Linked DNA regions of Homo sapiens. The protein of the gene in region 1 interacts with the protein of each later gene in a biochemical or structural test. Each region holds a gene or a part of one and is shown in the gene's direction. Other genes may lie near its edges.

What was found.
Region 2: the proteins of RADIL (region 1) and SDC4 interact in a test that uses a peptide from one of them, tested with the Homo sapiens proteins (one large-scale study listed by IntAct).
Region 3: the proteins of RADIL (region 1) and PTPN18 interact in a test that uses a peptide from one of them, tested with the Homo sapiens proteins (one large-scale study listed by IntAct).
Region 4: the proteins of RADIL (region 1) and CSPG4 interact in a test that uses a peptide from one of them, tested with the Homo sapiens proteins (one large-scale study listed by IntAct).
Region 5: the proteins of RADIL (region 1) and PKP4 interact in a test that uses a peptide from one of them, tested with the Homo sapiens proteins (one large-scale study listed by IntAct).
Region 6: the proteins of RADIL (region 1) and ARHGEF16 interact in a test that uses a peptide from one of them, tested with the Homo sapiens proteins (one large-scale study listed by IntAct).
Region 7: the proteins of RADIL (region 1) and GNG4 interact in a test that uses a peptide from one of them, tested with the Homo sapiens proteins (one large-scale study listed by IntAct).

Annotation. Positions count from the first base shown.
Region 1 is NC_000007.14:4,835,217-4,838,716, reverse strand, and holds part of RADIL (ras-associating and dilute domain-containing protein), read left to right. Parts: intron 1-1,266; exon of another isoform or gene 1,267-1,329; intron 1,330-2,111; coding exon 2,112-2,359; intron 2,360-3,477; coding exon 3,478-3,500. UniProt on the Homo sapiens protein: Downstream effector of Rap required for cell adhesion and migration of neural crest precursors during development.
Region 2 is NC_000020.11:45,334,925-45,338,424, reverse strand, and holds part of SDC4 (syndecan-4 precursor), read left to right. Parts: intron 1-2,504; coding exon 2,505-2,643; intron 2,644-3,500. UniProt on the Homo sapiens protein: Cell surface proteoglycan which regulates exosome biogenesis in concert with SDCBP and PDCD6IP.
Region 3 is NC_000002.12:130,354,813-130,358,855, forward strand, and holds the start of PTPN18 (tyrosine-protein phosphatase non-receptor type 18), read left to right. Parts: upstream 1-1,243; 5' UTR 1,244-1,295; coding exon 1,296-1,388; intron 1,389-4,043. UniProt on the Homo sapiens protein: Differentially dephosphorylate autophosphorylated tyrosine kinases which are known to be overexpressed in tumor tissues.
Region 4 is NC_000015.10:75,692,349-75,695,848, reverse strand, and holds part of CSPG4 (chondroitin sulfate proteoglycan 4 precursor), read left to right. Parts: intron 1-2,615; coding exon 2,616-2,779; intron 2,780-3,500. UniProt on the Homo sapiens protein: Proteoglycan playing a role in cell proliferation and migration which stimulates endothelial cells motility during microvascular morphogenesis. May also inhibit neurite outgrowth and growth cone collapse during axon regeneration.
Region 5 is NC_000002.12:158,459,952-158,463,451, forward strand, and holds part of PKP4 (plakophilin-4), read left to right. Parts: intron 1-3,500. UniProt on the Homo sapiens protein: Plays a role as a regulator of Rho activity during cytokinesis. May play a role in junctional plaques.
Region 6 is NC_000001.11:3,453,528-3,457,464, forward strand, and holds the start of ARHGEF16 (rho guanine nucleotide exchange factor 16), read left to right. Parts: upstream 1-1,137; 5' UTR 1,138-1,284; exon of another isoform or gene 1,285-1,301; intron 1,302-3,908; exon of another isoform or gene 3,909-3,937. UniProt on the Homo sapiens protein: Guanyl-nucleotide exchange factor of the RHOG GTPase stimulating the exchange of RHOG-associated GDP for GTP. May play a role in chemotactic cell migration by mediating the activation of RAC1 by EPHA2.
Region 7 is NC_000001.11:235,580,285-235,583,784, reverse strand, and holds part of GNG4 (guanine nucleotide-binding protein G(I)/G(S)/G(O) subunit gamma-4), read left to right. Parts: coding exon 1-45; intron 46-3,500. UniProt on the Homo sapiens protein: Guanine nucleotide-binding proteins (G proteins) are involved as a modulator or transducer in various transmembrane signaling systems.

The DNA of each region.
Region 1 (3,500 bases):
CCTCCGGCCCCTCGTTGGAGGCTGGCAGCCTGGCCCTTCTGCACACATGCAGGCCTACCCAGCACCAGGAAGGAGACCCTGGGAGTGGCCCCTGCGTGTCAGCATTGGTTCCGACCTGCAGAGAGCCCAGCCCTGGGCCTCAGGAGGCTGTGGAGCCTTGCCTGGAGGAGCAGGGTACACTCAGCTGCGAGCCACTTGCCTGGGGCTGCAGCCCCAGGGGACACAGGCCTGGGACATCCCGTGCCGCATTTGTGGCCAGGTCCTCTGGGAGCCCCTGGGACTCTAGGAGGAGAAGCAACCCTTCCTGCCCCATGGCCCTGGGACTTCCAGCAGGTCACTCTGAGGTCACCTCCTACAACCTGGCCCTGGATTTGGGAGAAAGTTGAGGGCCGGAGCATCATTTGGAGCTGTTTTTGTTCTTCTTTCGGATCTGGCCCCATAGTTGTGCAATGAGGCTGAGCTGTGGGGCTGGTAACGCTTGTGGGAGTGGCGGGTGGGATGAGGTAGGGGAACTGGGCCCCACCTGCTGGGCACCTGCCGCCTGCCAGGCTGGGCCGGGTTCTGCAGGCGGCAGGAGCACGGGTGGTGAGCAGCCCAGCCCAGCAGCCTCGCACTGCGGCTGGGCGGCCTCCCTCACGCCCTGGCCCCCTGCGGGCTGCAGATGCACAGGCTGCCGGCTGCCTTGGGAAGGACGGCGGGGCTGCTGGCGCTGGTAAGGGTCTTCCTCAGCCAGCTGACGCCTCCCTCCATCCGGCTTTTGTTTGGTTTTATTGGGAATGGTTGGAGGAAAGGCCGCCACAGATGGGGATGGATCTTAACCTGAAAGGCTGCGTACAGGGAACTCAGCAGAGGGCTCAGAAAAGACAGCGCCGGGTCAGCTGGGGACTGGTGAGCGGTTTTCATCTATCGCAGCCGGCTGGCTTTCCCAGAGCATGCATTTAGAGAGCGTGTCTGTATTTATGAGATATTAAGTCTTCTAAGGGTGTGTGTTATCTCTGAACTGTGCGCATGTTTGTGTGCATGTATGTGTTAATGTGTGTGGGTGCATGTGTGTTGGCGTGTGTGTATGTGTGTGCATGTGTGTTTTTGGGTGCATGTGTGTGCATGTGTGTGTGCATTTTTGTGTGGGTGCATGTGTATTTGTGGGCATGTGTATGCACACGTGTGTTTGTGTGTGTGCCTGCTTTGGCTTGGGGGTATCAGAGACAGCCTTGGGAAGGAGGCAGCGATGCTGTTGCAGGAGCAGGCCATCGGCAGCCCCATGGGCTGGGGTGATGTGGCACAGTGACACCTCCTCCTTGTAAAGTAGGGGCAGGATGCTGACCAGTCCGTCTCGTCTCGTCAGAGCACCACCCCCAGGGGAGTTTCGCCTGGTGCACAGATGGATGGGGCAGGGCTCTGGAGGCGGCGTGGTGACCCTGCAGAGGCCCAGGCTGCCGTGGGAAAACGTCTGTGGTTTGAGGCCTGTGGGCCGTGGTGCTGGCTGGTCGGGCAGGCCGCGGTGTGACCCTGGGCTGCTGCAGGGGAGGCGTGGTCCCCTCAGCCTGAGGATTTGACAGGCAGGCTGCCTGCTCTGAGACTGTTCTGTGGGTGCCACGGTGGTGCCAAGGCACTGTCTGGTTTTTCGAGGGGCGTGGCTAGAGGGCAGAGTCCTTGAGTCTCCACCAGACCTGTTTTGACAGAACAGTAACGGCATTAGGAGACGTGGCTTAGTGGGATTTGAACTCAGAAGGACCCGGGACATGGGCGCTATTAGACTTACCTGTTTTTTTTGGCGGGGGATGGAGTTTCGCTCTTGTCACCCAGGCTGGAGTGCAGTGGTGCAATCTCAGCTCACTGCCACCTCCGCCTCCTGGGTTTAAGCCATTCTCGTGCCTCAGCCTCCTGAGTAGCTGGGATTACAGATGCGCACCACCACGCCCAACTCATTTTTGTATTTTTAGTAGAAATGGGGTTTCACTGTGTTGGCCAGGCTGGTCTCGAGCTCCTGACCTCAGGCGATCCCCCCACCTCGGCCTCCCAAAGTGCTGGGATTACAGGGGTGAGCCACCGCGCCCAGTCCTGGTGCTATGAGACTTCTAACTGTTCACCTTGTGTTGCTTCTGTTCCAGGGATAAACGCCCAGGCCCGGAGGCTGCAGCGGAGTCGCGCGAAGGGAACCCCGACCCCGGCCCTGGGGGATGCCCGGAGCTCTCCTCCACCCCGGTTGCGCCGCACAGTCAGTGAGACCAGCCTGAGCCCAGTGAACGCCCTGCCCGCTGCCGCCCAGGGCCCCGAGGAGCCCGGCCCCGACGCCATGCGGTACTCGCTGTACCAGTCCCCGCATCTGCTCCTTCTGCAGGGCTACAGCCAGCAGCACGTGAGCCTCCCCTCCTGACACCCACTGCCCGGTGCCACTGCAGGGACAGCAGGCGGGACTCAGAAGTCAAGGCCTCCGCCTGCCTTTAGCCCAGTCGGCCGCGAGCTCTGTGGCTGCAGCCCCTCTGGCTGTGCCGAGGCTGTGGAGTGGGATGGCGGGGGCACATGTGGAGTCATCCACATTTTCCCTGTCCAGGCCACGGTGGGCGGCAGTGGGGGCTCCTCACTTCCCCAATCCCAGAGTGGGTGCCCTCAGCACCAGGCGCCTTCAGGGAGAACTCCTCACGCCTTCCCAGCCTTGGTCTCCCGCCTGGCTCTGGGGAAGGGCATGGGCAGTTGGCCAGGGCCAGTCTGCTTCCTGCTTCTGGCGAGGGGGCTGCTGAGTCACCAATTGGTGGCCACATTCTCTGAAGGGGCACCGAGCAAAGGCCCATGCCACCCCTATCTGCCCAGAGCCGTTTCTCACCACTTCCATCAGAGCAGGCAGGCTGTCGCCCCGAGCAAATGCCAGGCGCAGGGCCACCTCGCCTCACCTTGCCGGACACTTGCCCTGCCAGACAACTGTTTTCCCCGCCCCCTGCTCACCCTACCCCCGCCCTCCTGTGCAGCCAGCTCCTTTGCTGCTCATTTCCATGAGCACTTTACAGCCATAGGGCTCCTGTGCCCAGGTTTTAGGTGGCATCTTCCCTCGGGGCAGTGCTCTCACACAGGCGGCAGTGCTCCCACACTGGGGGTGGTGCTCCCACACAGGCGGCAGTGCTCCCACACAGTTTTGGGGATGACTTGGGGGAAGTTATGTAGTCCTTGGCCCGGTCTGTAGAACCAGTGCCTGTTTCCCGGCCAGCCCTGACCTGGCCTGTCGCTGTCTCAAAGCTGGGTGTCTCCTGGGTCTCTCGTGTGCTCCTCCGGGAAACCGACCTCCTCTGGGATGGGCCCGGACATCGAGGGGCGGGTTCCTGAGAGCCGTCGGGGTTCTGGTGTGGGGGTGGCCAGGGACATGGAGAGCCCGTGGCGACAGCATCCCAGCCACGCTGCTTCAGCAACCAGTGACTAGACACGGGACGCTTTTCCCGTGTGCTGCTCGCGTTACGCCTGCCCTGAGCGGAGTCTCTGTTTCAGGACAGCCTGGTGTATGTGCTCAA
Region 2 (3,500 bases), on another chromosome or scaffold:
TGGTCAACAGCTGGCCAAAGTGTACCATTCTTTCTTTCTCCCGGCTAGATTGACCCCCCTACTTAACAGGGCTCCCTTGGAGCCTGGGGCAGGCTGGTGACCCCGTGTACATATGTGTTCATGCGTGTGTTTATGTGTTTGTGGTTAAATGTCCAGGTCAGTGAAGCCTGGGTTCTGGCCCAGTGTGGCTACTTCCTGCTTGTGTGGCCTTGGACAAGTGACTTTACTTTTCTGAGCCCTTGTTTCCATCTCTGCAAAAAGGGACTATTAAAAGGACCTAGACAGGCTGTGTGCTTGGTTAAGGCCTGTCACTTGGGTTCTTGGGGGATTTGCCACAGGAGATGGAGGTAGGAGCACAGGGACCCTGCCCTTAGGTATAGGCACTTGGGCAGCCATGAGGAGCCTTCCTCCTGCTCTGCCAAACCAAAGCCACAGGCACGGGCTATGTGCGGGGGCTTGAATTCCAGCACCAGCAGCCCGGCAGCTCCTGATTCCCGAGTCATGAAGTCATCTCTGAGCAGCACTTAACCTCTCTGGCTTTCCACCCCCACGGGTGCCAAGCGTTCAGCATTCTCCCCACTCCCCGGGAGAGAGTGATTCCTGGCCACTGCCTTCCTTGTGGCCTGACCCCGCTCCCTTCCGGGAATCCAGCATTCTCCCTCTGTGGGGGTGGAAGAGGGTGCATGAGGGTCAGGTTCCACCTGCCTCTCCCCAGAAGCCCAGTGGGGAGAGTACAGGAGTGGCTCTGAAGCAGCTTTCCTGGGCCTCTCCTGCAATGATAATAACCTTATCTTAGGGACAGATGTTCCTTCTCAGACACCCTCCTTTGTCAATGGCAGTCTCAGCTGAGTGAAGGACTGCCTGGGGTGTCCGAAACAGAGACCTGACCTCTTTCTATCCTGAGTTATGTAGCGAACGCTCTGTGTGACCTTGGGCAAGTCCCTGCCCTGTTCCGGGCTCAGATTCAAGTTGTGTGAAACGGGAGGACAGGAGCTCCTTGGGTCCTGGCATTCTGTGATTCTAAGCAGACCCCCAGCTCCTGCAGTTATGGCGTCTGGAGAAGATGGGAATGTCTTTCAGCGGGAGGGGCATGGTGTATTGAACTTAATGAAAAACCCCAACTCTCCTGGCAAATACTAGGCACTTTAGTGTTTGAATTAATTAGTAGAATAATGAACTTTGCTCAGAGCTGCTGTTCTCTGGGCAAACAGAAGCCTGAGCCCAGAAGCTGGAGGAAGGGTGATGGGCATCCAAATGTTTCCTGTGCTCTTGAGGGTACATTGTTCCCACTCGGTGGAGCTACAGGATGGGAGCAGGGTAACTGATGTACTGTAGGGCTGCCCGGGACCTTTGACACTTTCTTTTGGCAAGCGGTTTGGTGGGAGTGGACCTGAGACTCTGTCCTGATCAGCTGTGTCTCCACAGGGTAGTGGCTGAGTGATGATTATGGGTACTGGAGTGGATGGTCTGTGAGGGTAGGGATTGTGCCTCTCGGTGTCTGCATGGTGCTGGCAGCAGAGTAGATCTGTGGGAGATGTTTGGAAGGCAAGACTGAATCCAGGAGTACACTCCTGAGTCATCAGGTCTGGGCAGCGCCCTGACCTGAGGCTGTCTTAGGGTGTGCGTGAGGCAGCCCTGTCTGTCCCGGCCCAGACTGACTCAGCTGGGAAAAGTATCCTGGACTGGGCAAGACCAGAACCAGGAGCCCACTCCCTGTCCTGTGTGAATCAGCTGCCACTGCATCACAGAGCCCTGGAGTGTAGCATCCCAGGGCCCTGTGCATGGAGACTCCTGGCTCTGAAGTCAGGCAGCCCTGCGTATGCAATCCTCGCTCTTCCATCTGCCAGCTGTGTCACCAAAAGAAAATGACTCCCTCGGCTGTAAAAAGAAGTGAATAACATGCCTCCAGAGTTATTAAAACAGGGCCCAGCACATAGCAAGTGCTCGGTAAAGGATATCTAGCCATATTAATAATTTGATTATTACCTCATTTACTGTTTTTATTTTTTTTGAGACGGGGGTCCCACTCTGTAGCTCAGGCTAGAGTGCAACGGCGTGATCCTGGCTTATTGCAACCTCCGCCTCCCGGGTTCAAGCAATTCTCCTGTCTCAGCCTCCCGAGTAGCTGGGACTACAGGCGTAAGCCACCACGCCCAGCTGATTTTTGTATTTTTAGTAGAGACGGGGTTTCACCATGTTGGCCAGGCTGGTCTTGAACTCCTGACCTCAAGTGATCTGCCTGCCTCCGCCTCCCAAAGTGTTGGGATTACAGGTGTGAGCCACTGTGCCCAGCCTCATGTACTATTTTTATTTGCCCAGAATGGAAAGAGACTTGCCTAAGGACACGCGGTGAGTTAGAGGTAGAGTGGGATCCAGGACGCAGGTCTCCAGGCCCTGGCCTGGTCTCTTTCTAGTTTCTGAATGCCCACTTCACTAGCTTTTGGGCATCAGCTGTCATGGAGCACTGGGGATGTTGGCTGATGTGTCTCCTTTCTTTATCTTAGATCCGAGAGACTGAGGTCATCGACCCCCAGGACCTCCTAGAAGGCCGATACTTCTCCGGAGCCCTACCAGACGATGAGGATGTAGTGGGGCCCGGGCAGGAATCTGATGACTTTGAGCTGTCTGGCTCTGGAGATCTGGGTACGGAAGGTGTGCTGGGCAGGCGTAGGCACAAAGCTGGAGGGAGTGGTGGCTTCACCAGCCAGGAGGGTGACCATGCCTTGAGACTTGGATTTTTGTGGGACTTTTCCTAGAGTGCCCTTCTTCCTTCTCAAAAAAAGGGGAAACAAAAGTAATGGATTAACCTATTCCATCCCTGAGAGCCCCTGGGGACAAGCTGTTTGCTGCTTTGAAGTCATTGGTAGCTCTGGGTTTTCTGAGCTCCAGCCTGAACGTGTCCTCATAAGCTCTTCTCTTTTCTGCAGGGCATGGTGGGGGTGGGGTGAGGGTAGGATGGGTGGCAGGACAGGGTGGGAGTGGGGAAGGAGGACCCATAGAGTGTTTTCCTTTTTTTGAAAGGAAAAGTTCCAGCCTGGGCCACATGGTGAGAACTTGTCTCTACAAAAACACAAAAATTAGCTGGATGTGGTGGCATGCACCTGTAGGAGTCCCAGCTACTTGGGAGGCTGAGGTGGGACGATCCCTTGAGCCTAGGAGGTTGGGGCTGCAGTGAGCCAAGATCATGCTACTGCACTCCAGCCTGGGTGACAGAGTGAGACCCTGTCTCAAAACAAAAAAGGAAAAGTAGCAGCTTAGAAGTGGGGATGGGGTGGGAGGGGGCATGAGTGGGCAGAGATGTAGTTGGGAAACCAAGAACAAGTCCCTGCTTCAGTGGGGGTGGGGGCGGGTGAAGGGCCCAAGGCCTCTAGGCCAGACAGCTAATAAGTGTCCCTCCTATGTGCAGAGAGGTGTTAATGATTGCAAGTTTTAGCTTTGCAAGTTTTAGCTTTGGAGTCACATGGTCCTGAGTTCAAGCCTCCATCCTGTGTGAACTGAGC
Region 3 (4,043 bases), on another chromosome or scaffold:
CTAGAATAATTCATGACACATGAACATTACATGAAATTCTGATTTCTTTGTCCATAAATGGTTTCTTTGGGACACAGCCACACTATATTGTCTGCTTTCATGCTGCCACAGCTGAGTTAAGCAGCTGGGGCAGCGATAGCAAAGCCAAAACCACTTCCTACCGGGACCTTTAAGAAAGTGTGCCCTTAAATACTCTGATAGCCCCTAGTGAATTAAATTGACCACCTGACATCATGCCCCTGTTGACCCTTCAGAGACTCAGGCACACATCCAGGCCCCAATGCTACCTTTCAACCCCTCAACGACCTCAAACTGGTGTCCACTGACGCCCCTTCCAGTGACACCCCTCTTAATTCTTCCGACCTCGGCGAGAAGGGGGCTAACCTAGGCCTGTCCTTGAAGAGACCCAGGTGCCAGTCCATTCTCTCCAGCCTCCCCTCGGTGATCCCGGAAGCTGGAACGGCGGCTCTCCTCTGACCTCTGCACACTTTCTGAAGATGGGAGTGTCAGGGCAGGCAAAAAAGAGAAGCTCTTCGTTCCCCAGAACCCACTTCCAGTGCCTCAGTTCTGTTTCCCAGCAGGCTTGTGCAGGTCGAGATGCTCACACAGGACTGACCCTGGTGCCCCAGCGCATCCGGGAAAAAGGAACCACAAATTCCTCGGGAAATACACAGAGAAGATCCCGCTGCCACTTGGCCTTTCCCACGGCGTGGCTGCCCCTCCCCGGCCTCCCTTGGGCCCGGCTGGAGCGCACAGCGCGGGACGCCCCCGACCCGGGGTCCTCTGGCACGAGGGGCAGCCTGATCTCGGCGACCGTCTCCACCCAAGGCTGCTGCCCGCCCCAGCTCGGACTCCGCGCGGCCTGGCTCCCAGGGGACGGGCGGGAGGGCCCGGCGAGACCGCTCGGCCGTCCACCCAGAGCCGGCACCCGGAGGTCGGCCCCTGGGCGCGGATCCCGATCTGAGGGCGGGTCCCAAGCGGCAGGGAGCGAACCTGGGACCGTGCCACCCCCCCACCAGTGGGCGCGGCAGCCGAAAAAAAGGGGAAGCGCCGGCGCTGGACTCTGCTCAGGGCAGCCCGCGAGGACCTAGGGCTCCGGCCACAGCGGCCCGAGCGCCCGGGGTGGGGCTACGCGGGCTCAGAACACGGTGGCTGGGGCGCCCTGCCCGCCGCTGCGCGCTTCCATTGGCTGCCGAGGCAAGGGCGGGGACTCAGTCACCGGCCTCCGCCTCCCGCGGCGTCCACACTCGCCGCGCGCGCGGCGGCCGGGCTGGACCTTGCTGGCCCGCGGCGCCATGAGCCGCAGCCTGGACTCGGCGCGGAGCTTCCTGGAGCGGCTGGAAGCGCGGGGCGGCCGGGAGGGGGCAGTCCTCGCCGGCGAGTTCAGCGTGAGTGGCACACGGGGTCCGCGAGCGGCGCGCCCCGGCCCTGGCCCTGCGTACGCCTGTCCTCCGCGCACGGCGGGCTCTGCCTTTCTGTCTCGGTGTCCCCGGTGTCTCCCCGCCTCGGGGGGTCTCTCCGTGTTTCTCTCCCCAGCACTTCTCTGTCGCTCTTGCTGTCTCCGTCTTCACTCTCTGCCCCCCGGCCCCGGAGCGCGACGTCCACGGCCAGGCCGGGACGGACCGTGCACACCCTCGTTCCCGGTGTCCTCGTCGCGCTCCCGGAACAACCTGGCTGCGGGCGGGACAGGTGGGGCGGGCGCCGCAGGGGAGGGCGGGCGGCCCTGCTGCGCTGGACAGCCCCGGCCCCGCCGCTTCTGGCGACCTGACTGTCCCCTGTGACCACAGGAAGGAAGGGGCTGCAGCAGGGCGAAGAGGAACACGGAGGCTGTGGCGTGGTGAGGGTGTGAACGCCGGGCTCGAATCCGCGTCCGGGCCCGAATCCGCTTCCCGTCCCGAATCCGCGTCCCGGCCATCCGCGTGTGGTCCAGGCGGTCTACCTGGCCCCTCTGACCTCGGCTTCTCCCTTGGTGAAATGGGGACATGAATGACCAAACTGGTCTAAGGATTAAATGATGTGGGTGAAAAGCACTTAGTACATATTGGGCGCACACTTCGTAGGGGCGTTCGTCACTGCCTATAAAGATTCTAAACGTGGGCCAGGTGCGGTGGCTCACACCTGTAATCCCAGCACTTTGGGAGGCCGAGGTGGGAGGATCGCTTGAGCTCAGGAGTTCGAGACCAGCCTGGGCAACACAGCGAAACCCCGTCTCTACTAAAAATACAAAAATCAACTGGGCATGGGCGCATGCCTGTAATCCCAGCTACTAGGGAGCAGAGACAGGGGACTCGCTTGAACCTGGGAGGCAGAGGTTGCAGTGAGCTGAGATGGTTCCACTGCACAGCTGAGATGGTGCCACTGCACTCCAGCCTGGGCCACAGAGTGAGATCCCATCTCAAACAAAACAAAACCAAACAAAAAATCTAAACGTTACAATACAGGTAGTGCAAGCCCAGCATTAGGAAGGCTCACGCAGAATGCTAGGCACTGTACATTACAGTTGATGACGTGTTTAAAGTGTAATCGCTTATGTACCAGACATAGAAACATACCATACAAACGCATAAACTGATATATGGTGACATGTATCAAGTTTAGAAATATGACAAATATATAAAAGTATTATAAATGACCGTTTATACAATAAACATTGCATAACTGCATAAAACAATACAACAAATGAATATAACAAAGATTATAATTTATAAAATGACCAAAGTTATTTGATAAATTCATAAGTAGATATAAAATATGTAACAGATGGCCGGGCACGGTGGCTCACGCCTATAATCCCAGCACTTTGGGAGGCCGAGGCGGGCGGATCACGAGGTCAGGAGATCCACACCATCCTGGCTAACACGGTGAAACCCCGTCTCTACTAAACACACAAAAAATTAGCTGGGCGTGGTGGCGGGCGCCTGTAGTCCCAGCTACTCGGGTGGCTGAGGCAGGAGAATGGCGTGAACCCGGGAGGCGGAGCTTGCAGTGAGCCGAGATCGCGCCACTGCAGTCCAGCCTGGGCAACAGAGCGAGACTCCATCTCAAAAAAAAAAAAAAAAAAAGTAACAGATAATTATAAACCTAAGTAATTTACACACATGTAGAAACATTGTATATAAGAAACTAAGAAATGCATAATAAATGTAAAATATATAATTATACAATATAAGAATGTGTGTAACAAATGTAAACATAATACCCATGTGATATATGACATCATGCGACTGGGTGGGTTCTGAACCGTGTACAGTGCGGAGGGCCTCACATGCGGAAGGCTGGGTGGCGAGGGCACCCCTGCTCCCCAAGCCTGCCTCCCGCATGTGCAGGAATCACTGCGCTCTTCTAGGTGTTCCCACTACACAAGGGCATCATGAGGGCTTAAATGACCCAATGGACACAAGTAAAGCACTTAGAATAGTGGCTGGCACACAGTGGTGGCATGGGTGTTACTTATTATCATTGAGATTACGAATACCTGACGATGATGGTAATACACGATTCACTAATTATTATTATAATCTCCCAGTAACACAGTGCCTATAGTATCTTGTACATAATATGTTATCCATTATAATGCCTATGCATTCATTGTACATTGTCTTATATGTTTAGCTACATAGCCCATAATATATTTCATTACAGTTATTGCTTACAAGACAATGTCACAGATTGAGTGTGCAGGGGGTGGGTGCCGAGAGGGTCTGAGTTCAACCCTCACCGTGTGACTTCCTGGTTGGGACCTTCCACAAGTCGCTGAACCACGTGGTGCATAAACTTTCCCGCCTGCACAATGGGGACGTCAATAATAGTACCCACGTCGTAGGAACCTGTGATGATTACATGCCCTTAGCACAGAGAGTGGCACAGAGAAGGTGCCCTGGGTCACTATTTCGGTATCATTATTATTAGGCAGGCCCAGTGCCATCAGGGTCTGCACTCACCTCCCCAGGCCACTGGCTTTGTATCCTGCAAGCGTGCCTAGGTGGCCTGGGACTCTGACCTGGCTCCTCTCCTGTCTTCTCCCCTCCCTGACCCACTCATAA
Region 4 (3,500 bases), on another chromosome or scaffold:
CTGTGTACTTCCTGCCAGTCTCACTCGGCCTTGCTGCTGTCCTCTGAGACTGCCTATTCCTCCCTCTCTGTGTCTGTACACCACCGTGACCTCCTCCAGGAAGTCCTCTGGATTGACTCCTAGCTTATTACATCTTAATTCTGCACACCCTCTCCATTTGAAGCCCCTCTTCAACTGCCCCCCCACCACCTCCAAGACAGGGATTCTGAGTTCTTGCAACTGAAGCCCCTCAGAGAGTGTAAGAGGGGCAGAAAAAAGGAGACCAGGAGGTGGAGGGAGTGGCGCTGTCAGAGTTTCCAGAGCCCTGGCCAGCAAGGCCTCAGAGGCCTCTGTTGGGGTGGGGGGCTGCCTGGCCACGCGCTCCAGCAGCACAAGACAGCCTGTGTGAGCCCCTCCCGCTCAGCCCCACAGGAAGCAGCAGGGCCCAGCCCCTCAATGGACCCATTCAGACCCCAGCGCTCTGGAAAGTACCTCTACTTCCTGCCACCCTCCCACTCTGGCCAAACAGGCTCTACTCTCCTCTGCTGGGAGGGGGCTGCAGGCAGGTGGTTCAGTGGTTAGGGCCAACCATCTAGTTCAGTTCCTGCCTGGCCCAGAGCCCTGATGTTGACCATGACTTGGCGGGTCTACATATACCTTTAGTGCAAGGGTGGGTAGGGGCAGGGACATGTGCCCCCTTCTCTGTGGGTGCTGGATAGGTAAATGTTTAGCAATGGGCTTTCTTGGGGAGGGGGAACCCTGATTTGCAGTATTTGCCTCTTTTCCTGGTATAAATGTTCTCACTGTGGGCAGTATCACCTGGCTCTCAAAATTCCTGAAAATTCAACAGTAGACTCCTGGCAGCTGCTGTCAGCCGCTCCAGCAGGTGACGGTGGTGGCTCTATCCTGCAGGGCCATGTGCCCCCACCCCTTGTGCTATGGCCTCCCTCACTTTAGTGTGCTGTGTTTTGCTCTTAGGAATCAATGTCTTTGCAGATAAGGCACCCCGGTAGGTGGCCGCCACCTGCAGTTCCCTGGTCTGTCCCTTGCTGGCGCCAAGCTCTGCTGAACCAGCTGGGCCGCCCCCGCGCAGATGGTCTGCAGGGCTCCCTTGATTCCCGTAGCTTCCCAGACAAGGTGCTGGTATTGCCAGCAGTGCTGGCAGGAGGAGATAACTAGAGGGGATTTAACTCAGCCCAAGGGGTTCTTACGGGATCTTTCTTGGACATCCCTCCCAGTGGGGCTGGCTGCCCTTAGGGTGTACAAGTCTCCGACTCCTCCAACGGCTGAAGCTGCTTACTCAGGCGGATGGCAGCTGGCTCAGGCTGGCCAGGGACCAGCACATGGGGCTGGTGCCGGATTATCCCTATCAAGGCCGTCAGCCTGTGCTCGCTCTCGGGTTTGAGGGAAGCCCAACAGGAATGAATCACCGTTTTTAACCCGTGTTTCTCTACCCCCCAGCCCTGGACATCTGCAGGCAAAGTCAAAGTTATATTTGGCTCTTATCACCACAAAAGGCATGGACCAGAAATTGTGGCAGCGGGTTGGAAGTCAGGGAGGCTAATCTGGGGAAACTGACTGGAGGAAGCAGCAATTCAAAAGAGGAGGAGTCCCAGTATGGGACAGAACGGGCCCTGCATAGGAACCACTAACCCCAGGCAAGCCCAGACATGGCCTTCTGCCTGGGGAGGCCCTCTTTGGCCTGCCCAGCAGACCCTCAGCCCCTCCCAAGCCCTGTCTTCAGCCTCAGCCTGCGTGGTGGCCTGGGGAAGTTAGGAACTCAGCTGTTCTCATCCCTGGTTCCTTGGCCACGGTGGAAACAATGGGGCCGGATCTGACTGCTCATCGGGGACTGTGAATAGCTCTCCAGCAGGAAGCAATAGCAAGGGTAATGGAGGAAGTGTGGGCCCACTTTGGTTTGACACTGCACATGGTCCCCATCTGGCCTCAGAGCCTTTGCTCCTTGGCAGACTCAGGCCAATAAGCTCCTGCCCCGACGCTCAATGGCAGCTGGAAGAATGGCCTGAGAGAGAAGCGGGGATAGGTGGGCCATGCTGACACCACCCCCAGATCCCAGTCGTGGCCTCAGCCAACCCATGGAGGCGGGGCATGGCACAGCAGGCGCTGCACAGGAGCCCAAGCACAAGGGCACTTAGGAGAAGGAATCTGAGCAGGGATCAGTCTGGACTGGGGGTGATTCTCCAGAAACTCCATTCCTTGGGGCTGTGACCACCAAGCCAGATGGTCAGGCCAGTTGCGGTTCCCTTTGGGCTGGGTCCAGGAGCCAGACCCACGAGGGAGACTCCTCTGGGGCCCAGGGGAGGCGAGTCAGAGCTGGCGGAGGCCTCTGGCTCCAGGAACCTCCAAGGAGGAGACCTGAGTTGCTGGGAATTTCTGGGTCTGACCTCCTGTAAATACAAGATCTGGGCTGGACACAAGGTGAGCCTGTGCCTTCTGGTGCCAGGACCAAGAAGATGCTGGGACCCGGGCAGTGCTCAGAGGCAGCACCATACAGCAGAACCATGAGGGTGCGCCAGCACGGACCCCTTTCTGCAACCCACCCGTCCCTCTTTGCGGCACCTCGCCTCCTCCAGGCAAGAGTCTGAGCCTTGACCACAGCTCCCTCTCTCACACAGCTTCCTTCTTCGGTGAGAACCACCTGGAGGTGCCTGTGGCCACGGCTCTGACCGACATAGACCTGCAGCTGCAGTTCTCCACGTCCCAGCCCGAAGCCCTCCTTCTCCTGGCAGCAGGCCCAGCTGACCACCTCCTGCTGCAGCTCTACTCTGGACGCCTGCAGGTGAGTGACGTCCCCCTGAGATCTGGGCGGGATTCGGGGTGGGATTCCTTCTCTAGCTTTGAGTGAACCCCAGCTGGCTGTGTGACCTTGTGTAAGTCACTTTTATCTTGGGGTCTTAAGTTCTCCACTGTGGGATGGGCAGCAGCAGCCCAGAAATGGTAAATCCTTCATGAACTGGCTCTGCCCACTGGCTCCCTCCAACCATGTTTCCCGCCACAACCCCTCGCTGGCCCTTTGTGCTCTGACAGCCCTGAACTGCTTTCAGTTCCTGGCCATCTTACAGTCGCTTGCTGCCAGGCTCTTGATGCACACTCCTTCTGCCAGGTGTGCGCCTCTCCCGTTCCCTGCACATGCCTAACTCCAGCCTCTCCTTGAAGTCTCAGTGTGGGCATCCCCTCCTCCTGGGCTAGGCCCCCTCCTGAGCCCCCATGACCCCTGTGCATCCCGGTGGCACTGCACCAATTTCTCTGCAGCACCATGGTCTGTCCACGACAGTAACAGCACCAGTACTGCCTCAGCTTCCTCATTTTTCCATTTCATCCTTCAAGACACCACAAGCTTTGTTAGCAAGGAGTCTTGTGGCTTTTTTGAGTCTTCCCCTAAACCATGAAGAGTTTAAGAACCCAGGGTCTTATTCCGAATTTGTGCCAGGCTGGGTGCAGTGGCTCATGCCTATAATCCCACCACTTTGGGAGGCCAAGGTGAGAAGATCACTCGAGCC
Region 5 (3,500 bases), on another chromosome or scaffold:
AAATAACCGAAATTGTATTTTGACCAAAGTGCATTCCCTCCCCACCCCCTACTATTATGTAAGGAGAGGGTGCTGCATCTGGTGTCTTATGTATTATACTGAAGAGTCTAAGTTGGGAAAGCTAAATATCCAATTATTTTAATTTTTACCTGTATTGTTTTTGGAGGGAGATAAGGGAGCAGAGTATTGATGGAAAACAAGGGAAGAAGAAACTAGGGGCAGCTAGTATTCAGCCAGAAAGTAAAATTATATACATTATTGCAGCAGTAATGCATTTATAAGCTGAATAAATCAAATCTAATTTTGTGACTAGTTCTGACATGATATGAATTTAAAGAAACTACTACCAAATTCAGTTTAATAAAAATTTTAGCATTTCTATGACCTTGAGTATTTGGATTAGGTTTAAATTAGAATCGCAGTTTTCTTCCTTTTCTTGTAAATAGGCAAAGTAAATTTAATGTAAAAATTTGAAACTCGCTTTAATTTTTGAAAATGCAATTATTGGCAATTTTTGACCTTAGTAATTTCCATGCTGTTACCCAGGGATCAATTTAAATAATATTCATACCCTGGATGATGCCAACCATCAGGTAAGTCTAGTCTCTTACCTGACTCTTTTGAAATATTAAGGTATTTTGAGAATGCTCTGTAATCTAATGTGTTTTTCTTTCTGTTTCAATTGAGCAGTAATTCCCTACCTTGCTTAATTCTAAAATGGACATCATATCTTCATTCTTAAATGGAAGGTAAAATAGAGGTTACTATAGGGTTATTTTAGGGCATAAATGCCTATGGTATTGTATGTCAGTTTGGGAAGTTTGCCTTCACGCCTTCAAGTGTACAGGGAGATAGTTACTCCTTCAATGTGTGAAATGATTCTGTAGTGCCCTTCCTGCACTGAAGGGGGAAGAAGAATCTGAAACATAACACCAGAGGACTAGGTATGTTTGGAGAATTAAATAACTATTTCACAGCCAGACAACACTACAGACAGCTGCAAATAGAGAAAAGAAGGAAAACTTTTAAGATACGTGGATGTAAGCTTTCATTCTTACATCAATGGAAGTGATGATAGCAGTCAGCAGGTCAGTTCGATGCTCAGTGATAAGAAATAACAGGGTTATTTCAAGGTAAGGTAATCAGGCTCTAAGTTGCCAAGAACAGTAATTCATGTACTTGCTGGTTTCAGTTCAGAAGTTGCATAACATTCAAATATTTCTTACCTTGTCACTTTAATAATTCAGTGGAATTATCTTAATTTAGTGTGCTATGTTACCATTACTAAATTGGGGATGTTACATGATGGTGATCTTCAATTAAACTTAGGAATGTTGCAGACATTTTCTTCATCATTGACCTGTTGTTTTTCCTTTTCATAATTCAGATTTGTTTGATATACCAATAAATGTTGGCTATATCACTGATCATTTTATTATTCATAGTCTTGATAACATTATAGTTTATTATGACTCATATATAATGATTCATTGCAGCTGATAAAATGTTGTTAGGGATTGTATTGTGAGATTTTATTACTACCAAATATATAAATTAAAATGTGGAAGTGTCTGAGTTATTGTAAGTCATGTGATTGCAAAGCATTTTTCCTGAATGGAATAATGCCTGGTGACTGGGTGGGTGCCAATCCAGGTAGCTAGATATAGAATAATACAGTCTTCACAAAATCCAGAACTCACAATATAGGGTAGGGAGGGAGGGGGCCAGGGGAAGCACCTTTCTTTGACATCTGAGGCATGTTTGACTTCTATAGTTTCCTCTCCACTAAATATAAATTGGGTGAGTTGCAAATATTTAATGGTGTTAGTACTGCTCTTCCTTCATCTGTGCCCCTACACTGCCCCCACCACCCTGCCACAACACACACACACTATGCCATCACCACATCTGTGAGCTTGGCAAGGCAGAGGAAGCTCCTTATGGCCTGAGACCATGTACATAAAATGTAGACATTGGTGTCCTGTATTCCAGGTTGAATTTAAAACAGGTATGGGGTTTGACACAAAAATGATACTGTATATGAAGGTTAGGTAAAATATGTATTTGAAGTGAGGCTATCAGGGTACTATGCAGGCTTTTGGGGCCTGGCCCGAAACTTGGAATGCAGTTTTTCATAGAAACCCACAATCAGTTTACAAATAGACTTTTGAAACACTGGCTAGGTGGTATCTGAAGTTTTGGCCCATTGCAAGCTGTGTCTGAATTGCAAGCATGAGGGAAGTAAAAAGCATCCCAAATCAGAAATTAGGAGATCTGCCATTAAACCTTATTACCTTGACAAACCATTTAATGTTTGGATGATAGCTTCCTCCTTTTAAAAATACAATTTGGATTATATTGATCTAAGTTATATTTTAGCTCAAGATTCCTGAAGTTCACAGTGGTTTTTAAAAATTTTTCTTAAGAAAAAAAAAAGAACAAAAAACTTTTCCAAGCTTGAATATACATAATCAGCCCTGTTTCCCCTTGTACCTCAAATCATGGCAACAAGGAAGTTGAATTTCTCTTTTGAGACTTTTGAACCTTCTTCACATTCATTTTTAATTGTTTTGTTTTAAAACAATATCATTTTGGGAAGTGAGGGGAAGGGATGAAGCACATGTTTTCAAAGTCTTGCTGTCTGCCTCTACCCTAGTCTGAGATTACATATGGTAGTTTTGGCCAGGGAAAGTGCTTGGGATTTCACCTTCATACTCAGTGAGGCTCATGAAGTGTCATTAAGGTAGTGAGGTGTCATGATTAGCAGCCTTACTGTCAGGGTCCAATTCTGGCACTGCAACTTGCTGGCTGTGTAACCTGGCAGATTGTATAATCTCTGTGGTCCTCGTTTTGCTCATCTGTAGGATGGAGTGATAAAAGTACCCACTTCATATGGTTGTTGGGGAGATTAAATGAATTAATACATGTAAAGTGCTTACAACAGGAGCTGGTTCAGAGCCAGCGCTTAATACATTGAAATAATTATTTTTACATTGTGGTGCTTTTATGATGGTTTCTGCAGCATTTACCAAATGCCAGGGAAATTATTGGCTTGCTTTCTGTGTGGGTTTTGTCAAAATGATTATGGATTTCAACAGGATATTTCAGAGAAGAAATAAACTGCTGAACAGAAACCATTGTGAGCTTGATAGTTTGCAGGACATTGTAGAAAAGAGAATCCAGCACAGTAATTAAGGGCCTTTTTAAGTAGGGAAGTTGTAGCTTCTTGCGGTAGGCAATACTTAGAGAGGCATTAACCACCGCTAGCCAACAAGTATAGGAGAATGTATACAATTATTGCGTTTGTAATCCCAGGTAGTAGTCATTTTATAAAATGTCTTTGCTAGTCAGTACATGAATAAAGCGTTAGAAAGTGTTCATCATTTAACACCATTTGCCCAAATGCAGCTTGTAAATTAACTCTTTAAGCTGGCTTTTCTGTCTGAAAGTGATCACAGTTGAAAAAAAAAAAAAAAAGGATATTTGAAATCAGCAGGAGA
Region 6 (3,937 bases), on another chromosome or scaffold:
GGGGACTAGTGGGTGGGGCGACCAGAGCAGGAGGGGCAGGGCAGGCCGCCCCTCTACCTATGACACCTGAGAAAATGCCAAGTGACAGCCCCAGAGCCTGTGGTGTCTCCTCAACCCGCAACGGGATCTCACGGCCGCCCAGGCCAGGGAGGCAGGTCCTGGGAGGAGGGTGGTCAGTGCCTCTGGCTGGCACACCGGTGCCCGGCCCACGACCCCAAGGCCTGGGGTCAGTGAGGGGACGCTGGTAGAAGCTGACCCAAAGCCCAGTGTGGATGTTCACATGGAGGCCTTTGGCAACAGGCCTTTCCTGAAAAGGGGATGATGGAGGCAGGTCAGAAGTGGGTCTGAGCCCTGGGACCTCAGGTCACATTCCTGAATGGCCAGGCCCAAGCTTGGGAGGCTTGGCTCAGCCCCCAGCCCCTCCCACAGCACCAGGTGGCCTGATTCCTGAACCCCCAGCTGGGGGGCTGCTGCAGCCTCTGCCCGGGGCCCTCCCTCACTTTCACACGGGTTCCCAGCAGGCGGAGCAAGGAAAGGCCAGGCTCGGAGTCCAGGCTCAGCCTTGTGCACGAGGGCGAGCGCCTTCCTTTCCAGGACTCGGTCCTTCTCTGTGAAATGGGGATGACCGCGACTCAACCACACCAAAAAGGTGGCCAGAGTGCTTTGCGCCCTCTTGGCTGTCTTTGGCCGCCTGGCTTCCAAGAATCCAGAGGGCCGGGCCTTTCTACAGCAAACATCGGTCCCCGCAGGGCTGGTCTCCTTCCCCGAAGGCTTCCTGGAGGAGGCAGTGGAGCGGGGCCTGGAAGGACAGTGACGCAGGAGGGAGCCGAGCCGCTCTGGCCCCACGCCTGGCAGGCGACTCCCGGGCCGGCCTCGAGGGGGCGTGGGCGCGGGGAGGGAAGGCGCAGGCACCGGGCGGCGGCGGCTCGGCGGGAATCGAGAGGCGCGATCCAGTCCGGGCGATCACGTGGGCTCCAGCCGGCCCAGGTGGGGCTGTGACCTGTGACGCAGGCGGCGCCGCCACAGGTGCCCGGGACGCGCCCCGCCCCCTCCCCGGCCCTCCCCGCCCGGGCCCTCGGACCCGGAGCAGCCCCGCCCGCCCAGCGCCCACCTGCGGGGCCGCAGCCGCCGCCCTCCAGCCAGACCGCGCAGGAAGCGGAGGAGGCGCCCCGGGCCGGACCGCGCTGCCGCAGGAGCGAAGCGGCTGCAGGACAGGACAGGACCCGGCGCTGGAAGCTGCACCGCCAGCGCGCCGCCCCTCCGTCCCTCCGCCCCGCGGCGCAGGTGAGCCTGGGGGACAGGTGAGCCGGGGGACAGGTGAGTCGGGGCTCGGGGGAGCCGGGTGGGGGGATTAGCCCGGGGGAGGCGCCGGGAACCCGGGGCGCTTCTCCTCCCCCTCGCTTTTCCCGCAAGCCCCGCCCCGGCAGCCGCAACAACTTCGCGACCCTCCTGGGGCTCCGCCGGGGCGGGAGAGGCGGGGCTCGCGGGCTGAGCCGGATGCGACTTTGGACCCGCCCCCCCACACACACCAGGCAGCCCCCTGCTTGCCCCCGCCCGCTCGCTCGCTGCCCTCTCTTGACCCCGAGTGGCCGCTTCCTCTTCCTAAAGGAAAACTTCCATGCAACCGGAACCTGGGTTCAGACTTGAGCGCCGAGGACTCTGGAAGCCCCAGGGAGTTTGAAAGAGCATGGGGTGGGGGGCGGAACAGAACGACCCTCCCGGGAGCTCTTTGGGGAATCTGACACCCAAACCTGCTTTGGCCCCAAAATTTCAGAAAAGCCCCGAGAAGGAAGAACCCCACACCCAAGACAAACCCAAACCATACGCCCCTCCCCCACCCTTGACCTTGGTGGGCGGTGGCAGGGAGGGACCTGCTTTGTCTCCCCTGAGAAGGGAGATGGGGAGGGGGAGGGGTGCGTCCCACCTACCAGGGAGCCGTGGCCGCTTGTCTTGGCCGCTCAGCCTCTTTCTGCGTCTGTGAAATGGGAACAGTATCCCTTTTGAGATTTGAGCAGGTGGGGGGACTGAGGGAGTGGCAGCGATGGCAGGTCTTGGTGACCTCTGCTTCTGACCTGAATCAAGGCCTGAATCTTCTCTGTGTCCTTGAGGGGAACAGTCTGTGCACCACCTAACATGGGGGCCTAGGGGGTGCGTGTGGGCCTGGCTGGGGGTCCAGCAAGAGGGTCCAGGTGCTGTGCCTGGCTGCAGGTCCTGACCCCTCCGTGGCATAGTTCCCAGGTGTGTGGGTTTCAGGCTCACATCCTGGCTCTTTGTGAACTAAGCAGCTCTTGGGGCCTCGGTTTCCTCATCCGTAAAATGGGACTAGTAGGAGTGTTGAGTTAGAAGATGTTGACCCACAAGTGTGCCAGGCAGACGTGGACCCTGCTGTGCGATGCCCACAGCCAGCAGAGGGGAACAGGGTGAGATGAAAGGTACTGTCCAGAGCAGGAGCCATGGGCTGAAGGTAGGCACTCCTCACCCACCCCAGTCTTGCTGGAAGGGAGGTGTCTTGGGGGCTTCCTGGAAGAAGTAAGTCACCTGGACCAAAGTCACCTGGAGGGTGGGATGGGCCCTCCCTCCACCTGGACACTGGGGAGAAACCCTTGTTGGGGGGCCTCCCTGAGGTCGCTGGCTCTTCGGGGGCCATCTCTGACCCACAGGACCACCCTATGTGGGAAGCACTTTCCACCTACACATGAGGAAACTGAGGCACAGAGGTGAAGCAGTGAGAAGCGGCGTGCCAGGGTCCCCACAGCTCACATGTGACGCGCAGGTCCCCATCCTGAGGATGGCCATCTGTGTTCACGTTGTGATCCAGGCGCAGGCGCTCCCCGCGAGTTTGGGTCTGAGTTTTAGTTTTGGTTTCCAGATGGATCTGGGCTGCTCCTGTCCTTAGCACAGGGGACCATCCGTCTGGAGCAGCGTCCTTATTTCTAGTGACTCCCTGGCTGAGGCCAGAACCCCCACTCCCCCCGGTCCCCATTTGGGGACAGCCATCCAGGTCAGGACAGGGCCTGGCCAGCAGTCCCACCCCCGCAGGCCACATTCCCTCTGCACCTGGTTTCCTTACCTGCCCGGGAAAATACCCACCTTCCAGAAGTTTGGGGAGGGGCAGAAGACAGTGGATGACAGGGCATTCAGAGGGCACTGTCTGTGTGTCTGTCCTACAGCGGGTGAACGGGTGGCAGGAGACCTGTCACCCACACGGGCACCTGTCAGAGGCAGGCTCTGATTCCCACCCTTTGGGGGAACCCCGTGAGTGGCAGCAGAGCCAGGGACAGCAGCTGGGTTTATGGGATGTCTCATTCAGAGCCGGAGCTGGGGAGTGACTGGAATGCACTTTGGGCTGAACCAGCTATGTCCAGGTGGGAGGGCCAGGTGCACTTCCCCGCCCCCACCGCGCAGGGTGGCTCTCTGCTTAGCTGCCTAGGATTTCCCTACCGCAGCCCTAGGGACCTTGATCCAGATAACAGGTCTCTCCAGCAGCCTTGCCAACCAGTAGCCAGGACTCCTGACTACCAGCAGTGTCCCCAGACGTTGGCAAATGTGCCCTGGGGGCCAAAACTGCCCCAGTGAAGGCCGCAGAGCCAAATCCCTGGCCACCTTGCAAACGGAGCTGGCTGATGTGTGCTGCATGATTTGCAAAAGCAAGTCCTCCCCCCGATTATGTGACTGAGTCCGAAGTTTGACGGGCAGAATTACCGGAGTACAAGGGCATCATTGTAGCTTGAGTTTGCCTTCACTGAGGTTGGATGGACAGGTGCTAGAGAGGCCGCGCCCCACTGGGCCGAGTGGGGTCAGCCGGACCTAGAGGCCAGGGTAGGAGGGACAGAAATGCCTGAGGGTGGGACCACATGAAGCTGGAGGCCTGTGCAACATCCTAACCGGAGGGGCAGCAAACTTGGGGCAATTGGGTCCTGGTGGCCGTGACAGCAGC
Region 7 (3,500 bases), on another chromosome or scaffold:
GCTGTGGAGCAGCTAAAGATGGAAGCCTGTATGGACAGGGTCAAGGTAAGCATGCATGCGTCAGCCCCACCCTCCGCCCGAAGCTCAGCTCAAAACATTCCTCCTGCTTCCAAAGCAGACTTGTGAGAGTTAACACGTCACCCAGCAGAGCATGCAGCCAACCTTGGCAGCTGTAACATTTACAAATGAGTGTTTGCTTCACAGTTCTAAGTGTGCCCAAGGATTCAAAGGATGCAAAATACACAGTGTGCATGAATTCCATAAGGAGTCTCCAAAAATAGACTCATAATTCATCTCGGCTCTATTTAGCTCCGTTGTCATGCCAATAAGCAAGAAAGAGAGTTTAGCAATGAGATCAATCACTTTTCTGCTGTGATACAGTGCCTTTGAGGTTCAACAACATCGGATATTTTGACAGGATTATTGTTGAGGGTGGAGCTCTGAACCATGCCTGGGTGTGTCAAATATTCCTTTGGTGAAAATGAAGAAAGGTTCCAGACACCTCCCGTTGTATTCATTTCACTGATGAGTGCAGGTCTCTCCACGCTGGGAGGACTGCAGCAAGATGAAGCCACCTCTTCTCCAGATGCCACTCAGAGGTGAGCAGAAGGCCAGGCAAAGCATGTGGCTCTGAACGAGTCCGTGAGCATGACGCTCGTTGACTGTAATAGAGTTGAAAGGAACCCCAACTCTGGTGTCGGGAACCTGATGCCAGGAAGCTCCATGTGTCTGTGGTCTTGGGGAACACAAATCAGAGGTCTCACCTGGGCATCTGGGATTCAAAAAACACAGAATCCATGGCAACGGGCGACTCCTGAAGCCTTCTATGGACAGAGCCTCCCTGACCCCTCCCCTCATGCTAGTGTATGGCTAGAAAGCACCAATACTCACCTCTGTGTGGACAGTTATTCTTTTCCCCTGGAGCTCTGGGGGTACAACCTCTCCAAGGAGGCAGAAAATATGCACGGAAAGTTACATGAGGGTATATGAAGCAAGGAAGGAATCCAGCGTGATGTAAGTCAGTATCACCGGACCCATGTTACTAGAGCATCTACATCTCATACATACCGATACCAACTGCAAATTACATGTCAGTCCTTGGTCTCTAGACTAGAGGAGGGAGCAAGTTTAGAACCCAGAAAACAATTCTAAGACACAGCGGGTCCCAATAGCATAGAAAGGGGTTTCAAATGAAAGCTGCAGGCATCCCGTGCTCCAGAAGTGCAGACAGGAAAAAGGATGAGGACTGCAGTGAAAGGCATTGCTGAGCACCTAATCTATACTTGAAGGGTCCTGGGAGAGAAATGTGAAGGCGACAGTCTCCTCCGTATGGCTCAGGGAAGACTTCTCAGAGTTGTGAGCTATGGCTGGCTCTGAGCTGATAGTGGAGGAGGAAAGGCCGGTGTGAGCTAATCACGGCTCGTGTGGAGCAGCTGGGCAGCGGGAGGAGCTGCAGGTTGTGCTGGGAAGAGAGCTATGGGAGGAGGGCGCCATGCACACAGGTGCGGAAGCCACAGCCATGAGGTGACAGGTGTGTGAGGTGAACCAACCTGTAAGCAATAGACGGAGTTGTCAGAGGTGAGGAGGTAGTTGAAGCTCTGAGTAATCAAGAGAGGCAAGGAGGGGCAGAAATCGGGTACAGTGTGGAGCAGACAGCAAAGATGCGATCGGGGAGGCAAACACACCAAGAAAATCAACAGAACATGGAGAGTAAACGTGGGAGGCACTAGGGAGAGAGACGTTAGAATCCAGCTGTCAAGCCCCATGGCCAGAGACCTGAAAAGACAGTGGGCCCCAGTTTGGGCTATAAGGCAGTTCTCCTTTGCCCAGGCGTTCTCTTCTGGCAAGGAAGATAAATTCTGCAATAGCATCTTCACCTGCCACAGACACCGCCCCAGGAGCCCCTGTGAGGACCGGGTGTCTTCAAGAATGAAGGCTTCTTCAAGAGTCACTTAGGCACACACACTGTCACTAAAAGAAAGAGGAAAGTCAAAGACAAATGAGTTACTGTAGGAGTTCATTCTCACATTGCTGTAAAGAAATCCCTGGGACTGGGTCATTTATAAAGAGATTTAATTGGCCTGTGGTTCCACAGGTGGTCCAGCAAGCATGATGCCTGTATCTGCTTGGCTTCTCAGGGCGGAGGGTGCGGAGGCCTCAGGAAATTGAAAATCATGGCAGAAGGTGAAGGGTAAGCAGGCACATCTTACATAGCAGGAGAAAGAGAGAGAAGGGGGAGGCGATACACACCTTTTTTTTTTTTCTTTTTTGAGACGGAGTCTCGCTCTGTCGCCCAGGTGTGATCTCGGCTCACTGCAAGCTCCGCCTCCCGGGTTCACGCCATTCTTCTGCCTCAGCCTCCCGAGTAGCTGGGACTACAGGCGCCCACCACCACGCCCGGCTAATTTTTTGTATTTTTAGTAGAGACGGGGTTTCACCGTGTTGGTGAGGATGGTCTCAATCTCTTGACCTCGTGATCCGCCTGCCTCGGCCTCCCAAGGTGCTACACACTTTTAAACAACCAGATCTCTTGAGAACTCACTCACTATTACAACAACAGTACCAAGGGAGATGGTTTTAAACCCTTCATGAGAAACCACCCCCATGTCCAATCACTTCCCACCAGGCCCCACCTTCAACACTGGGGATTACAATTTGACGTGAGATTTGGGCAGAGACACAGATCCAAACCATATCAGTTACTCAGGTGATATTCAATCAAAGGGATAGGCAGGCCAGATGTGGTGGCTGACGCCTGTAATCCCAGCACTTTGGAAGGCCGAGGCAGGTGAATCACCTGAGGTCAGGAGTTCGAGACTAGCCTAGCCAACATGGTGAAAACCCATCTCTACTAAAAAATACAAAAATTAGCTGGGTCTGGTGACGTGTGCCTGTAATCCCAGCTACTTGGGAGGCTAAGGCAGAAGAATCACTTAAACCCAGGAGGTGGAGTTTGCAGTGAGCCAAGATTGTGCCACTGCACTTCAGCCTGGGCAACAGAGGAAGACCCCATCTCAGGAAAAAAAAAAAAAAAAAAACAAAAAACGGGATAGGCCGCCATGTTGCTGTGCTGACCATAATGGAAACGTGAAAGCAAGATTCCTCAGGGGGCCTGCCAGAGGCTAATTCAGATCCTGTGGTAATTCCAGGGAGTAGGCCAGTGACAGCTGTGTCAGATTTGGTTCAGAAACAGAGTTGGTGGAAACAGAATGTTGTCATTGAAGAGACAATGCCTGAGGAGAGAGCTGAACCTAGGAACCGCATCTGTGCCAAAGATGCGTGAGCACACATGGGTGGTTTTTGTTTTTTTCTTGCTTGGACACCCTTGAACATTAATTTTTTTAGTTGTGGTAAAATATATATAACATACAATTTATCATTTTAACCATTTTTAAATGTACAATTCATCAGTATTAGGTACATTCACAATATTGTGCAACCATCACCAGCATCCACCTCCAGAACTTTCTCATCTTCCCACACAGAAACTCTGTACCCAT